Linked DNA regions of Homo sapiens: region 1 is linked to region 2. The links come from fine-mapping of genetic effects on gene expression. A gene starts in region 2. The other region holds a variant in brackets. All regions are shown on one strand. Distances are from middle to middle.

The links. PIP is the estimated chance that this variant, and not a neighbour inherited with it, causes the effect.
Region 1: its variant is fine-mapped to the expression of PREX1 in whole blood (INTERVAL, PIP above 0.99).

The regions. Positions count from the first base shown.
Region 1 is chr20:48,624,373-48,629,738 of GRCh38, reverse strand. PREX1 (phosphatidylinositol-3,4,5-trisphosphate dependent Rac exchange factor 1) reads left to right here. Exons shown (of 40, transcript NM_020820.4): 37 at 118-290; 38 at 1,776-1,878; 39 at 2,124-2,191; 40 at 3,812-5,366. The coding sequence ends at 3,854. Among named protein-coding and RNA genes, the nearest start is that of PREX1, 200 kb to the left of the region's middle. The variant CA/A (reference allele first, on the strand shown) is at 3,010.
Region 2 is chr20:48,824,971-48,830,336 of GRCh38, reverse strand. It overlaps PREX1 (phosphatidylinositol-3,4,5-trisphosphate dependent Rac exchange factor 1), which reads left to right and starts at 2,338. Exons shown (of 40, transcript NM_020820.4): 1 at 2,338-2,695. The coding sequence starts at 2,477. RefSeq lists silencers at 1,685-2,364, 2,775-2,844.

The DNA.
Region 1 (5,366 bases), 200 kb after region 2:
GGCAGCTGCAGGAACAGCTGGATTAGAAGGATATGGTGGGGGAGGAGGGCCAGATGGGGGCTGAGGGGCTGTGAGGACCTCCTCCAACTCCCCGGTTATGTGTGGTACCCCCTACAGCTGATCCGCCCCATCAATGCCCTGGATGAGCTCTGCCGCCTCATGAAGTCCTTTGTCCACCCAAAGCCTGGTGCTGCTGGGAGTGTGGGCGCCGGCCTCATCCCCATCTCCTCGGAGCTCTGCTACCGCCTGGGGGCCTGCCAGATGGTCATGTGTGGCACAGGCATGCAGAGGTGAGCTGCTGCCCGCTGAGTCGGGGTGTGGGGAGGGGCTGGCCTAGCTTCTGGTCAGTTTGGGGTCCTGTGGCAAGGAGGCAGGAAGGCTGGGTTCCAATCCTGGTTCTGCCATTGCCTGTAGAGCCTTGGCTCTGTCTGCACCTCAGTTTGTCTGTCTGTGAAACGGAATGGCAGCAGCAGGTGGTCCTAGCAGGGCTGTGGAGCCACCTGCTTCTCTAACGCCGTAGTGAGTGTGTGTGAGAGCTGTGCCCTGTAGTTCCGCCGGAAGCCTCCTTCAACATTAACAATAGCAATGGCTGGTTTATGGGGCCTGCTGACCTCACTGGAGGCTCCCCTGCCTCCTACCTCCATCCTTTGTCCCCAGTGCTCATCCCAGGGAGGAAGAGGTCACCTTCTCCAGAGTGCTTCCTGACCTTCCGTTACAAACTGTGCCCACTCTCCCCACTCAGTGCCCTCCCAACCCTCTCTTCCTCTGCAGCCCTCACCCCCACTCCCCAGACAGCCTTCATTGGGGTATTTATTTCCTCCTTGGCTCCCTCAGGGCAGGGCTGGATCTGGGAGGGCAGGGGCCCCTTTTGTTCTCTGCTGTTCCCCAGAGGCTAGAGCAGTGCCTGGCCTGAGACAGGTGCTCAAGAAACATTTGCTGAATAAATGTTTCACGGGGCCAGTGCTCTCTGCCTCCTAGGTCATTGACGTTCCATGCAGATTAACTCCTTTCCGTCTTTCTCTACCAGTGCAGTAGTGGGGCCTATTTTAGGGGATCTCACCTAGGGGCAGTTTTATCCCCGGGGAACATTTGGCAATGTCTGGACACATTTTTGGTTGTCACAACTTAGGGGAGGGAGGAGCTCCTGGCCTTTAGTGGGTAGAGGCCGGGATGCTGCTCAGCTTCCTGTGGTTCCCAGGACAGCCCCTCCAGCTGGGCCAGGTCCTCTGTGCACCACCATGCTCCCTGTTTCATAGTTAATAGTATAGGGAGGCTGAGGTTAACTCAGCTACCCAGGGTCACAGAGGAGTTACATGGAGGGACAGGATTGGAATCCTAGAGGTCTTGCTGCAGAATCCACGTTCTAGAACTGTTGAGAAACCCAGAGAGGTGTGAATCGATGTGTCCATCTCAAACCCCACGGAGCCGACAAGTCGTGAGGCTCCCAGGGAGTCCCCCACTCACTCAGCAGATATTTACCGAGTCCTCCTCTGAGCGAGGCACTGGGAATGTCACAGGGAACTCAACAGGGCTTCTGCAGACGGGGAAGCACCAGAGTGCCTGCCAGTGAGGGTGGTGGCTGCCTGGAGGAAGAGGAGCAAGCGGGGAGGGACGGCAGGAGGAGGCGTTGCCGTGATGGTCAGGATTGGGTCTGGGAGGCCTCGGAGGGACAGGAAGTTGCCCCAGCTCTCACCCACTGTCCTCTGACTCCCGCTGTCCTCCCCCGACCCCTGTCCCCCCACCGCCAACCCGCTGTCCTCCCTCCCCTGCTGCAGGAGCACCCTGAGCGTGTCCCTGGAGCAGGCGGCCATCTTGGCACGGAGCCACGGGTTGCTGCCCAAGTGCATCATGCAGGCCACGGACATCATGCGGAAGCAGGTGAGGCCGCTTGGCCACAGGGTCCTCCAGCACCCTGGGCTGAGGGCGTGGCATGCTTGCAGCCAGGGTGGGATGAGGGGCTGGTAGCCACCAGCCCCAGACCTGAGCCTTCTCTGAATCTGGAGGGGAGCAAGGATCTTAGCTTCTGGGTCCTTGGGCTTCTGGGCCCCACCCCCACCCCCCAGTGTGCTTCCTCACGTGCCCTGAACCTGCAGAGGCCCCTGCCTGATGGTTCCTTCTTCCAGGGCCCAAGGGTGGAGATTCTGGCCAAAAACCTGCGAGTCAAGGACCAGATGCCCCAGGGTGCTCCGCGGTGAGTGGCTGCCTCGTCCGCCCCTTCCTGTCCACTCCCAGCTGGCGACCCAGGCCTGGCTTTGGCATCATGCTCCTGGCCTAACCCCTAATGCTCAGATGGGGCTTCCCCTCTCATTTATGGGGAACCTCTTTGAGGAGCAACAGACACAACTTTGTCACCTCCCAAAGGAGCTCCTGCTCCCACCGGGAAGATGAGCCCCCAGGTGTGCCGTGAGGCGGTGACTCTATGAGATCCTCCCACCTCACTACACTGTGCCCTCAGCCCCATGCCCTCTCAGCCCTGAGCCCCCGCCCCGTGCCCTCCACCCTGTGTCCCATGCCATGTGCCCCCCACCCCGTGCCCCCTACCCTGAGTCCCTGACCCCTGAGCGGCTCGCTTTAACCTGGGGTGGAATTAAGAATTCTGTGATTTTAGCTGATCCAACCTAAGCTAACCTTTTAGCCATTTACAGAAATGCGAACTGAACAGCAGCCTGGGCCCAGGCCTGCGATGCCTGATTTGCAGGAATGCTCTCTGTTCCTGCCGTCTTTGGCATGGGGAGTGCTGTTTCCTCCTGTCCTCCCACCCTGCCCTCTCTTCATGTGGTTTTCAGTCTTCCTCTTGGTGCCACATGTAGGCCCTTTAGGATCATGACGTTGTTTCCGTCTGATCCTCTCTCCATCTCCACAGCCCTAGTTTGCTGTCGTCATCTGCCCACAAGTTTTAAATAACTCTTGTTTTGAAATAATGTGACTCCCAAGAAGTTGTAAAAATAGTCCACAGTTCCATGGACCCTTCAGGCAGCTCCCCGCCAGCGGCAACGTCTTACGTAACCA[CA/A]GAGCGCCGGCAACACCTGCTGCCAGTGGTGACGAGAGTCACTGTGCGTGCTGTGGCGCTGGGGGCTCCACACACACCTTGTTTGTGTCTCACGAGTGGCACGTGGTTCCTTTCAATACCTTCACGGCCTTTGCCCTGTGCCACGCACTGTCCAATTGCTTCCCCTCTGTGGACTCATTAATCCAAACAGCTGCCCTGTGAGCCAAGTCCGGCTGTCATCCCCACTTGGCAGGTGGGGACGCTAAGGCACAGAGAGGTTAAGTATCTTGTCCAATGTCACACAGCTAGTAAATGGAAAAGCTGGGATTCTGAACCCAGGCAGTCTGGGCGTGGAGTCCGAGCGCTGACCACATCAGACCACATGTGCAGCATTGCAGTCTGCTTGCCCTGGACACCACGCAGCCTCCTGTCTGGTCCCCCGGCTCCAAAACCATCTCTGCATATAGAGTTTCCCAGGATAGAGCAAGTGAAACTGCGTAAGGGGCAGAGTGCTGTGGCCATCTGGCCCCCACTAGTGTGGAATGTGCACCCCACCCCCACATGGCTGAACGCACACGTGCACCTGTAGACACGTCTTCATTTGTAAATGCCAGTCTCTGAGTGGGCAGAGACTGCCTGTGGGTAGGGGCCTGGCAGTCAGCAGAAGGCATGGACAGCATAGATATTTTTCTCTGCATCTTTTATATACCTGTGAGTTTGGGTTTCTGGGCATGAATTACATGTTCAGGTAAAAATGGAAATAATACAAATAGGTCCTGGCCCGCCCCGGCCTCTCCTCATTCTCTTTGCCTCCATCCCCAGCCTCTACCGCCTCTGCCAGCCGCCGGTGGATGGGGACCTCTGAACACCCAAATGCCCCACGCTGGGCCGCGGCCTCTGGAGCTGGGATTTGGGAGGACACAGCAGGCAGCGCTGGCCTTCTCCAGGGATGGCCCAAGGCTTCCGCAGCCGCCCGTTCCGGGACCTGCCCAGCGTCCTCCCTGCCTCCTTCCGGGACAAGCCTGGCCACCCTCGCTGTGATGACGAGCTGGCTGATTGGCCCTGGGCCGGCCCATTCTTCACACGCCTGCCAGAAGCTGGAGGGGTGCTGGAGACCCATAGAGCTGATGGGAGCAGCTGGTGCCTGGCCTTCGGCTCCTGCGTCCCCAGAACCCAAGGGAACGTCATGGAGGCCACATGGGGCCACCCGGCTCCCTCGGGATGGCTCCGCCTGCACTTTTGAAACCCCGGTTTCCTTCAACGTCCACATTCCAGGTGACCACACGTGTCTCCTCCTCCTCATCTTAGCTTCCAGGTTCACCCTAACCCTGTACTAACCTGCTTGGTGGACTTGGAAAAGACTTGGCTCTGTCGGGAAAGGAGAGACGGGGCCTCCATCACGCCTGTTACCAGAGGATCCCCGAGAGCCACACCAGCTCTGGACATCACCGCCCCTGGAACTGGGGCCACCAGCCCTGGGCACGAGATTTGCTCTGACTTTATTTATATGGCATGAAATCTCTGGTTTATTTTGGGATTTTTTGTTGTTGGTGTTGTCAAAGTTTGTTTTTTCTAAAGTTGTGTGATTATATATTTGACATTTTACATTTCAAAGAAAGGTATGTTGTCTAACAGGGGACCAACAGAAGGTAGTATTGACAACTGTTCCTGCTTCTACTAAAAAAAAAAGAGCACAAAAGAAAAACTAAATTATTGAAAAATTAAAAAATGTCATTGTTTCCTGTTTGTTAATATTAGGGTTGTAAGGTGTCGTTTTGAGGTATCGACTGTGATTCCTTCCCCCACCCTCCATTCTCCAGCGGTTGGCCGGTGTTAGAACTCGCTCTCTTTGAGTGACTGGCTACAAGGGCCTGAGAGGTGGCCAGCCAGGGTTGGAGCTGGAGGGGATGGAGCCCCACCTGAGGTGCCGTGTCACACGGGTTAGAGGGTCACTGGGAAACACCGGGCGGTGGCTTCTGTGATTTATTTTCTTGATGGTAACTTCTCAGAGCAGGGCGATTGGGACATCACCAGCCAGAGCACAGGAAGCCACCCTGCCTGCTGGGGAGGAGGGACCCACACAAGCCCCCTCGGCAGTTTGTCCCCCCAGCTTCGGTATGCCTTCAGGGAAAGGTCACAGCTGGGGAGGAAGCGGGGGGACGCCTGTCACCCCTGGCAGGTGGTGAGTTCAGGTGGGGGCTCCCTGCTGCCCCCAGGCCTGGGAGCTTGAAGCCCTCCCGGCATCTGGCATCCGAGCCTCCCGCCCTCCAGGGTGCGCTTCCCTCTCTTGCCGCAGCATACACGAGGGCAGGCAGTGGCCTTGTCACTGTATCTTGCATCAGAGACAAAGGAGGACCCGCTTTAGCCCTGCTGCGGG
Region 2 (5,366 bases):
GGTTGGAGTGCAGTGGTGTGATCACAGCTTACTTGCAGCCCTGACCTCCTGGGCTCAAGCAAGCTCCCCACCTCAGCCCAGCAGCTGGTACTACAGGTGTGTGCCACCATGCCCAGCTAATTTTTAAAATTTTTTTGTAGAGACAGGGTCTTGCTATGTTGCCCAGGCTGGTCTTGAACTTCTGGGATCAAACAATCCTCCCACTTGGACCTCCTAAAATTCTGGGATTAGAGGCCGGAGCCACTGTGCCCAGCCTGGAGACATTTTTGATTCTCAGATTGGGGAGGGAGTGCTACTGGCATCTAGTGGGTAGGGGACGCGGCTAAATGTCCTGAAATGCACAGGACACGCCCCTCCCCCAACAAAGAGTTATGTGACTCCAAATGTCAATAGTCCCAAGGTTGAGAAAGTCTGTATTGCATAGAATTCGCTCTCACAAAGACTCCCCTTTTACAGATTAGACGACTGAGGCCCAGAGAAATAACGTGTCTTGGCCAAGGTTACCCTGCCAGTTGGATTTGGACTGGGATACAAATGCAAGCCCGCTTCATTCCATGGTCCATTATGTTCCAGCCATGTTCTCCCCTCGTGGTAGACAGAATTAATTTAAAGATGAGGAAACGGAGGCTCAGAAAGGTACCGTGAACAGTTTAAAGTCACAAAGCAGAGATACTCCAGAGGCCTTTATTAGGAATAAAAATATAAATAAAAAACCAGCTACCTTTGGACACAATTGACTCCACTACCCAAGCGTGACAGGCTCACCTATCTCATGTCCTTTACTCCCTGCCCAGGGGAACTTCACTCAGCCCAAGGCCCAGATCAAATGCTACCTTGCCCATGATCCCAAAGAAAGAAGTCAGAGAGGGCAGAAGCCACCCCATTCTCTCCCTGTGTCCTTAGGCACTTACAGTATTGAGAGGCCAATGGGAGGAAAATCCTAGGCTTTTGGAACAGGAATAAATAAGCAATGTTTCTGTCCATAAAATGACTACAGTCTAGAGGCGGATACTATGTGGATCACTTTATCCCCTGCAGAGACGATACAATCTCTGGTCCGGAAACACGGGTGATTAGGGATTGTATGGGCCATTTGAGAGTGGGGCCAGGCTTAGAGGGCCGTTCACACATGCAATAATAGTAAGAACAAACATTTACAGAGAACTTTCTAGGTGTTGGGCTTCACACATGCAATAATAGTAAGAACAAACATTTACAGAGAACTTTCTAGGTGCTAAGTACTTCCCATGGAACCCCGGGGAGGACCTTGGAGCTAGGTACCATGATCGTTCCCGTTATACTGATGAAAACACTGAGGATCTTGAAGCAAGGAAACCAGCCCAAGGCCACCCGGCCAGCAAGTGGGGAGCTAGGATTTGAACCTGAGCAGCTGACTCTAGGCCCCAGAACTTCCTCCCCTCTCCATACCTTCCGATAAGGCGGGTGATGATCAACATTGCCCAGAGCAACCTGACAAGAAGCTGGGTTTCCCAAGGCCTTATCCCATGGGGTGGGTGGATGGAAGGGGGAGCAGGCAGGGTACCTGCCACTTGATCAATAACTCAAGAGCAGGTAATAATTTCTTCTGGGAAAGGTGGAAAGGGCAGGGTCAGGGGGCAAAGAAGTTCAGAAAGAAAAGGAAGGAAGGAAAGAGAGAGATGGGAAAGGAAACGGGAAAGAGAAAAGTGAGAGCGAGCGCGCGCCACGCATGTTCCTTCCCAAGGTCGTGGTAGCACCGAGGGCACCGCGAGGGCCCGGCGTTCCCGGGAGGGGCCGTCACTGCCCAGAGAGGGGCCGTCACTGCCCAGGCAGCGGTCGCCCCTGACTTCCCGGGGCCGCGGAGGCGCGCGTGGCGGGGCTGGCTTGCCCCCGAGCGGCTCCGCAGCGAGCTTTCCCAGCCCGGTGTTTACTTGGCCCGAGCAGCGGCCGGACCTGCAAGCAGGAGCCTGCGCGCGGCGGGTGTCGCGTGTGCCGGGTGGGAGTGGCGTAGCCCGCGGTGACTGCGGGTTGGGGGGGCGCCACGCGTCCGGGCGCGGAGTTGGTACGCTCGGTTCGGCGTGCGCGCGGCCTCGGACTCCCGGCTCCGCGGGGCCCTTCCGGAGGCTCCCGCCCGACCCCCGAGCTTCCGACGGAGGCGCCGAGCGCCGCGCCGCGTCCCCAGGGGCCCCGTGCACGCGCAGAGCGCCTCTGCGGCCGAGCGCGGCGTGGCACTTGGCAGACGGTCCCTGGCGCGGGGGCGGGGGGCCAGCCGTCTGGGAGCCCCGAGGGCCGCCCCCTCCCGCCCCTCGCCCGGCCCCCGCGCGCTGCCTCCGCCCCCGGCCCAGCCGCCCGGCCCCCAGTCCCGCCCGCCGCGCCGGGAGCCCGGCCCGCCGCTGAGCCCGGCCCGCCGGCGCGCCCCGTCCGGGATGGGGCGCCTGGACGCCTGAGTTGCCGCTCGGCGCGACGGAAGGAGCCGGCGCCGCGCGGCCGCGCTAGAATGGAGGCGCCCAGCGGCAGCGAGCCCGGCGGCGACGGGGCCGGGGACTGCGCCCACCCGGACCCCCGGGCCCCTGGCGCCGCGGCGCCCAGCTCCGGCCCCGGCCCGTGCGCGGCCGCCCGGGAGTCCGAGCGCCAGCTGCGCCTCCGCCTCTGCGTCCTCAACGAGATCTTGGGCACCGAGAGGGACTACGTGGGCACCTTGCGCTTCTTGCAGTCGGTGAGTGTCGCTCGGGAGCTTGGGGACAGCTTTCCCTCCAGCCGCTCGCCCCGCTGCGGTCCCCACAACCTGTGGCCGTGGTCCCCGTGGGTGGAGAATTGCCTCGGGGGCGCCCCGCAGGGCGCGCGGAAAGCGGGGGGGATCCGAGCTCCTCCAGAGCTGTCGCGTCGCCTCCCTCCCTGGCCGGCGCACGGTCCTGCTCCGACCGGGGCTCTCCCGCACTCCACTTCCCCGCGGCGCGCGCTGCCCTTTTGTCTTTTCTTCCCCGTCCCCGCCTTTCAAATAGTTTTAAAATTAGTTACATCCGCGATGCAGGGGCTTGGGGACCCCGGCGGCGCCGGGAGCTGGCGCTCCTGCGTCTTTTTCCCAGGAATAACTACGCGCCCGGTGCACCACTCATCTAGGACATACCGTAGGAGCCCCAGAGCCCAACGTCCCTGCGCGTTGATGGAGTAGGATAAAACCTGAAGCTCAGAGGAGGGGCGGGGATTGACAGAACCCCAGGGTAGAATCCCCCATGCACAGGTTTTTGCTGGAGTTCGGGGAGAGTGGGTTTCGAACTCAAAACTCGGCAGTCCAGGCTCCCTAACTGCATCCACCCCCACCAACTCCCCATCTCCAAGTGCAAAACCACGGCCTCAGACTTTGTAAAATAACAACCGACCACTTACTATGTGCCAGACACCTTACATGTGTCATTAATTAGCAGGTTTAACCTTCACAGGCGGTCTATGAAGTAGGGACGAGTATTTCCCCCATTTTTAATTAAAAAAATTTTTTTTTGAGACGGAGTCTCCCTCAGTCACCCAGGCTGGAGTACAGTGGCGCAATCTCGGTTCACTGCAACCTCCGCCTCCCGGGTTCAAGCAATTCTCTTGCCTCAGCCTCCCGAGTAGCTGGGATTACAGGCACGCGCCAGCCACCACGGCCGACTAATTTTTGTATTTTTATCAGAGAGGGGATTTCACCATGTTGGCCATGCTGGTCTTGGACTCCTGGCCTCAAGTGATCCGCCGACCTCGGCCTCCAAAGTGCAGGGATTACAGGCGTGAGCTACTGGGTCCTGCCTCCTCCGTTTTTAAGATTGGGAAAGTTTAGCTCCAGAGGGGCCGGGTAGCTTGTCTGGGATCGCACAGCTGATTAAGTGGGGGTACTGGGCTTTGAACCGGGACTATCCCAGCTGGTGTTCTAAACCCCTATTCTATGCTGCATTTTTCTTTTGCTTTTTTTCTGTGAGAGGGAGGAAGGGGCCACTTCCCTACTCTCCTAGGAAGTGAGAAAAGTGGCCAGCGGGTGGAGGGGGTGGGACGGGGCAGAGCCTTGGATGGAAGTTAGGAGACTCTAAAGTCTTTAATCTCCATGCCTCCTGCTGGGGCCTCATTTACTCCCCTTCTCTGCTCTAGGAAGTCTTTTAATCCTGGTTCAGGAAGGGCTGGTGTGGGGGTGGCTCTTTCAAAGACCCTAGAGCCAGGCTTTGTAGCTCCTAGTCTTTGGGAGAAAGAGGGAGACTCTGGGGTCCTCTGGGGCTCCTCATGGCTTAGGGGTGCAGCTGAGGCTGTGTGAGATCAGAGTTCCAGCTCAGGGAGGAGACAGCCTTAGACTAGAGCCCTTCTGCCTGTGAAAGGAGATGTACTGGGGGCAGGGGGATGTGGGAGAGGGGGTTGTGCAGAAGCATTGAAAACCATTTGGCTAAAGGACCCTTCTAGGAAGGCCTGTAAGAATAAGGCAGGATTGGCTTTCTTTCCCATCCCTTCTTCTCTCACAGTTTCGGGGGTGGGGGGTGGGGGAAGAATTTGTTCTGTTAGAAGCTGGCAGTTTTTGAATTAAACATGTAGACAACCCTGGTGTCTCTGAGCAATGTCAAATTCTAGGGAACTCCTGACTTCTCCTTCTGAGCCACTCCATGCTCCTCTGCTTGGAAGAGAAACAGGAAATACAAACCAATTTTGATATTAATGGGAAAGAAAATATACCTCTCCCTCCCACGCCCCTGCCCTAGATGGTGTGTTTCATTTTAGAACAGATCTAGATTGTGTTTGAGTTAACTGTGGTTTTAAATCGTCCACGTGTAGAGTAGGAGGAAGCTGGAATAATGGAAATTGATTGGAGCCAACCATTCTTATTATTCAAGAAACAGGAAAAAAAAAGATTTCTCTACTTTCACATTATCTCCTTAACACTTTACATTTGCTGACTTCATCACATTTTTCTTTTTGTATCTGATGTGTCAGTTCTGAGATGAATTGGTTCTGACTTGGACATGTGTCTTGGACCAATCATGCTACGTGTCCTGACCTCAGTTTCCCCACCTGTGAAACAAGGAGCGGGGAATCCGGGCTTCCTTTCTGCCTGGGCCTTTTGTGTGTCCCCAAGCTGGTGCCAGAAACAGACGGATTGTGTAACCTGACCAGCCATACGTTGTTTGTGAGCCACAGGAGTCCTCTCTCATCTTGGCCCGTCAGGAATGGCCCCTAAACATCCCAAGGCATTTTCGTTTTCAAAACTAACCTGGGGCTTAGAGCTTCAGGAACTGCTAATTACCAAGGCTTTCCATGGTTGCAAGGCTGGCAGCCTCAGGTTGTGATTCTCTTCTGTCTTCCCACTCTCTCTTCTCAGCCTTTATATTTGCTAAGGGATTTTCCCTGCTGTCTCCTGGCTTGGAAGAATGCAC